Linked DNA regions of Homo sapiens: region 2 is linked to region 1. The links come from fine-mapping of genetic effects on plasma protein levels. A gene starts in region 1. The other region holds a variant in brackets. All regions are shown on one strand. Distances are from middle to middle.

What was found. PIP is the chance, under the fine-mapping model, that this variant and not a neighbour inherited with it causes the effect. The UK Biobank Pharma Proteomics Project read protein levels with antibody pairs (Olink). The fine-mapping took linkage between variants from a reference panel, not from the people measured, so its PIPs are less certain.
Region 2: its variant is fine-mapped to the plasma level of the GIPC3 protein (UK Biobank, PIP above 0.99).

Annotation. Positions count from the first base shown.
Region 1 is chr19:3,584,264-3,587,156 of GRCh38, forward strand. It overlaps GIPC3 (GIPC PDZ domain containing family member 3), which reads left to right and starts at 1,215. Exons shown (of 6, transcript NM_133261.3): 1 at 1,215-1,559; 2 at 2,232-2,417; 3 at 2,551-2,731. The coding sequence starts at 1,335.
Region 2 is chr19:3,664,191-3,667,083 of GRCh38, forward strand. PIP5K1C (phosphatidylinositol-4-phosphate 5-kinase type 1 gamma) reads right to left here. Exons shown (of 18, transcript NM_012398.3): 3 at 632-724. Among named protein-coding and RNA genes, the nearest start is that of PIP5K1C, 35 kb to the right of the region's middle. RefSeq lists an enhancer at 1,077-1,907 and a silencer at 1,837-1,946. The variant C/T (reference allele first, on the strand shown) is at 1,720.

The DNA of each region.
Region 1 (2,893 bases):
AACTGTACAAAAAATTAATCATGTTTCTAAATTAAATTTTAAAAAACTGAATGCGGCCGGGTGCGGTGGTTCACGCCTGTAATCCCAGCACTTTGGGAGGCCAAGGCAGGTGGATCACCTGAGGTCAGGGGTTCGAGACAAGCCTGACCAACATGGTGAAACCCTGTCTCTACTAAAAAATACAAAAATTAGCCAGGCATGGTGGTGTGCGCCTATAATCCCAGCTACTAGGGGGGCTGAGGCAGGAGAATCGCTTGAACCCAGGAGGTGGAGGTTGCAGTGAGCCGAGATCACGCCATTGCACTCCAGCCTGGGCGACAGAGCTAGACTCCGTCTCCAAAATCAAACAAACAAACCAAAGGCTGGGCGTGGTGGCTCATGCCTGTAATCCCAGCTTTTTTGGAGGCTAAGGTGGGTGGATTCCTGAGGTCAGGAGTTCAAGACCATCCTGGCCAACATGGTGAAACCTCATCTCTATTAAAAATACAAAAAAATTAGCCGGGCATGGTGGTATATGCCTGTAATCCCAGCTACTGGGGAGGCCGAGGCATGAGAATTGCTTGAACCTGGTGGGCAGAGGTTGCAGTGAGCTGAGATCGTGCCACTGAACTCCAAACTGGGTGACAGAGCGAGACTCCAGCTCAAAATAAATAAATAAATAAAAATAATAAAATAAAATAAAACAATGACCTCGCCTAGCAGAGGGTGAGTGCTCCAGCACCCTCAGCTGTCCCTGTCCTTTTTTTTTTTTTTTTTTTTTTTTTTGCGACGGAGTCTCGCTTTGTTGCCCAGGCTGGAGTGTAATGGCGCCATCTCAGCTCACTGCCACCTCCGCCTCCCGGGTTCAAGAGATCTCAGCCTCCCGAGTAGCTGGGATTACAGGCGCCCGCCACCACGTCCGGCTGATTTTTGTATTTTTGGTAGAGACGGGGTTTCACCATGTTGGCCAGGCTAGTCTTGAACTCCTGACCTCAGGTCATCTGCCCGCTTCGGCCTCCCAAAGTGCTGGAATTACAGACGTGAGCCACCGCTCCAGGCCTGTCCCTGTCCTTATTTGTGGTCCCTGTTCTTCCAGGGTCCTGAGCTCAGGCCCCCCCGGACTGCGGGTATCCCCGGGGAGGGCACAGCTGGCCCTGGCAGGGCCCGGACACCTGGGGCCCGACCCACCCCTGCGCACCCCGCGGTGTCGCCTTCCCGGGAGGCTCGGGTTCCCAGATCCCCTTACCCGGGCGTCTCGGCTGTCGCGCCCTGGGCCGGGGGAGGGGAGGCTGCAGGAAGCGGCGGATCCGGCGGCGGCGGCGAGGGCCCGGGTGGGTGGCCGAACTTCTCCCGCCATGGAGGGAGCAGCGGCCCGGGAGGCCCGGGGGACCGAGACCCCGCGCGCGTCTGCGCCCCCGCCCGCGCCCTCGGAGCCCCCGGCCGCGCCCCGCGCCCGCCCGCGCCTCGTCTTCCGCACGCAGCTGGCGCACGGGAGCCCCACGGGCAAGATCGAGGGCTTCACCAACGTCCGCGAGCTGTACGCCAAGATCGCCGAAGCCTTCGGGATCGCGCCCACCGAGGTAAGGAGCCCGGACACCGGCGCCCAAGACCACCCGCCTGATGGGGTGAGGGGTAGGGAGCTTGGACCCTGGACGGGAGACCCCAGATCCCCGGATCCCAGACGTCGGGGTGGCCGCCTAATCGCCGGATCTCAGAGACCCAGCCCTCAGATCCCGGGGTGCCACACTCCCAGGGGCCCCCTTTGCACGCTCTGCGCAAAAGATGGGCAGGTCTTAGGACTAGCGGACCCCTAGATATTCCAGAAAATCCTCTGCGCAGACCTAGCTTGGAGCGGACCCCAGCCCTCGGGGAAGCGCCTCTGTGCTTCCTGGGCGTAGCTGGGGTCTGGGGTTCCAGATGGCCCCCTTAGGGATGGGAAGTTTGAGGCCGCCGTGGGGTTGGGGGGTTCCTGGGCGTTTTTCCAATCCGGGTTCGTTTGGTTTGCAGCCCCCAGGGGGCGCCAGCAGATTAAACCTGGAGGTCTGGGGGCTGGAGGTCCCGGGGTATGGAGAGGGGTCTCCACCTGCTGGAAGTCTCCTTCTCCCTCCTCTCTCTGTTCTGGGGGTCCCACGCCCTGCCCTTTCCCATGGGCTGGGATCCTGGTCGCTGGGGGCAGGGGCCTGCGCAGACAGGGTGGCTGCGTGGGGGGATGCATGCCCTGGCTAACTCTAGGCTCCTTCTCCCCCGGGAAGATTTTATTCTGCACCCTCAACAGCCACAAAGTGGACATGCAGAAGCTCCTGGGGGGTCAGATAGGCCTGGAGGACTTCATCTTTGCCCACGTGCGAGGCGAGACCAAGGAGGTGGAGGTCACTAAGACAGAGGATGCTCTGGGGCTGACCATCACGGACAACGGGGCTGGCTACGCCTTCATCAAGGTGCCCGGGAGGGGGTGGGCGGGTGGCTTCCTGGGGTCCAGCAACTGCCCCCCCCACTCTGGGTCGACGTGGGTTCTGCGGATTGGAGGCGGGTGGCTGGGGTTGCCCTGCCAGCGACGCTGGATCCCTGCAGAGAATCAAGGAAGGCAGTATCATCAACCGGATCGAGGCAGTGTGCGTGGGTGACAGCATCGAAGCCATCAACGACCACTCCATTGTGGGCTGCCGCCACTACGAGGTGGCCAAGATGCTCCGGGAGCTGCCCAAGTCCCAGCCCTTCACCCTGCGCCTGGTGCAGCCCAAGAGGGCCTTCGGTGAGGCGGGTGGGCTGGCGGGAGCTCTTCCCGAAGTGCGTTCTACGGATGCCTGGGGTGGAGGAGGGTCGGGGATGGGACGGGCTGGAAGGTTCTAGGTGCACCCGCTGCGTGCCAAGGAGCTCCTGGCAGGGTATCAGAAACTCGTAGGTAGTTTCTATT
Region 2 (2,893 bases), 80 kb after region 1:
GGATGTGGGTGCCAGGGCTGGGAGTCGGGATGGGGGTGACTGCTAACAGGGACAGAGTTGCTATTTGAGCTGATGCAATGTTCTGGAATTAGAGGTGACGGCTGCACAACTCTGCATATGTACTAAAAGTCATTTACTGCACACTTTAAAGGCTGAATTGTACAGTATATGAATCACATCTCAGTAAAACGGTTACTTTTGAAAAAACAGGCCCTAGGTGGGGGTGGGAACAGAGTGGGGGTCAGGCTTCCTACCAACACGGTGTGAGCCAGGCCAGCCTCAGAGTGTCCCATCCACTGCCCGAGGTGGTGGTGGGGTCCATAACCCCTCTCCCTCACCAGGGCCGAGAGCCCAGGCTCTGCCCGAGGTTTCAGGGACTCAGAGCCGGGCAGGCGTTGCAGCCAGGCTGAGCCACAGAACATGCTGCCCGGCCGCCCGGCAAGGACAGCAAACAGTGGGGCCTCATGCAGGACTGAGGACTCCAGCCTCTGCCTCCACACAGCCCACACCTGTCCCTGGGCAGACCCTGGTTTGTGTCGGGGGCGATAGGCCCCATCCATGCTACCAGTGGGATCCCCCTCCCCTCTGCTCTGTCCCGCTCCCTCCAGCCAGCTAAGGGGAGCCGAGGAACCTTCTTGTAGGTGGTTTCGCCGGATGCGTCCACACCTCGATGGCCCAACTTCTTCCCATGGCCAGGGCCCGGCTGTGCCGTCATGGACAGAACCTGGGAAGAGGAAGCAGGAAGCGTTAACTCCCTAAGGAGCACGCCCACCGGGACAGGGCACGCTCTGAAACCCTGGGAAGAAAGGTTTAGTCGTTGGGCCCAGCAGGGGTGCACAGGGCAGGGGGCAGGTCCAGGCGACTCCGGGGTGCAGCAGGAGGCCCCTCACCCGTGGGCGCCTGGCGGGCTGGCTGGGGCCCCTCAGTGTCCCACACTGGACACCCAGAAGCGCTCACTCCAAGGTGGAGACCTCTGCCTCCTCAGGAAGGGCAAGAGGATTGGGCAGCTCCAGCCCTCTAATTCCAGGGTCTCCCCCAGGTGCTGTGGACACTGGGGCTGGACCGTTCTTTGGGGTGGGGCCACCCTGGGCACAGCAGGGTGCTGAGCAGCATTCCTGGCCTCCACCCACTCCATGCCAGGAGCACCTCCCAGTTGTGGCAACCACAGATGTCCCCACACAACTCTGCAAATGTACTAAAAGTCACTCACTGCACACTTCAGAGAGTACAGTATGCAAATCACATCTCAGTAAAGTGGGTATTTTTTAAAAAAACAGGACTGAGGTGGGGGTGGGAACAGAGCGGGGGTCAGGCTTCCTGCCAACACGGTGTGAGCCAGGCCAGCCTCAGAGCATCTCACCCACCGCCTGAGGTGGTGGTGGGAGTCGTAACTCCTCTCCCTCACCAGGGCCCCTAACTGTGAGACCGCTGGGATGGAAGGATTGAAAAGACCACCTTGTCCCTGAGGGAGATGGTCTCACTGGCCAGGGTCAGGCCCGGCTCCTGCAAGCTGTCGGGCAGCGCGGGTGTCCCAGCAGATGGGACCGCCGACCCCAGGGGGCCTCAGCTTGTTGCCCTCGAGGGAGGATGTGAGGAGGGGCCTTGGGAGCCTGAAGGGACACAGAGGCCAACCAAGGAGAACAGCCCCGCCTGGCACCGTCATTTAAGGAGCGCCACTGCGTTTGCTAGGAGACCCCATGGACCCTCCACTGGCCAGAC[C/T]CCATCCCACCGCTATCAGCCCCAGGGACACGCCTGCAGCCCTGACCCCTGCCCCTGCCCTCCCTCCACAGCCGACGCTGCTCAGCCATGTTCCCTGCATTCTCCCAGGTGGCCGCCAGGGGGCAGGCTCTCCCCAGGAATTCACCCCGCCACCCGGGCCACCCTCCACCCGCGCCACCCTCCACACTGCCCCCACGCCGGGGGACTCTGAGGAAGGATCCCAGGGTCCCAGGCCTGGTGGACAAAGCCCTCCAAGCTCTGGCTACGGACGCAGGGCCAAGGGTGGCCCAGGTGGGACAGGTGCCTTGGGGACTGCTCCTGTGAATGGGGCTCATGGACAGGTGCCCTGAGGACTGCATGCGGGAAGACGGGAGATGCAGCAGCTCGGGTGCCCTCAGAGGACGGCCCACCCCACTGCGCCCACTGGGGCTGGGAAGAAGGCCACTCGGCGCCACGGGGCTGGCAGAAGCTGCAAAGGCAGGGCCAACGTGCAGAGAAAGCTCTCGGGAGGAGACGGGCAGCAATGACAGGACCCATGTACATGCAGATGTGCACACACACAGACAAATATGCACACAGGCAAACACACGTGCAGACGTGCACACAGGCAAACGTGTACATACGCACGCAGGCAAACAGGCACACAGGCAAACACACATGCACTCAGGCAAACATGAACACAGGCAAACACGTGCACACACGCACGTAGGCAAATGAACACAGGCAAACACGTGCACACATGCACGCAAACATGCACACACACAAACGTGCACACACACAGGCAAACATCCACACAAGCAAAAATAGATGCACACACGCACGCAGGCAAACATGCACACACACAAACGTGCACACACGCACGCAGGCAAACATGCACACACACAAACGTGCACACACGCACGCAGGCAAACATGCACACATAGGCTGCACACAGCCTCACTGTGCACTACGCCTGTGTGGCTCACAGACACTGAGGGCGTGGGTGCAGCTGGTAGCCTCGGGCATCGCCCTCTGGGCAGCGTCTAACCCTCCAGCCAGGTCTTCCATTCCTGCCCCCAGTCCCCCGGCGAGAGCTGCTCTCTCCCCACCGCCCACCCCCCAGAATCCAGGCTCCACGTGGCCTGGAACCCAGAGAAGCCCTTCCTGCCCCTGCAGCCCTGACCAGGCACCCCTG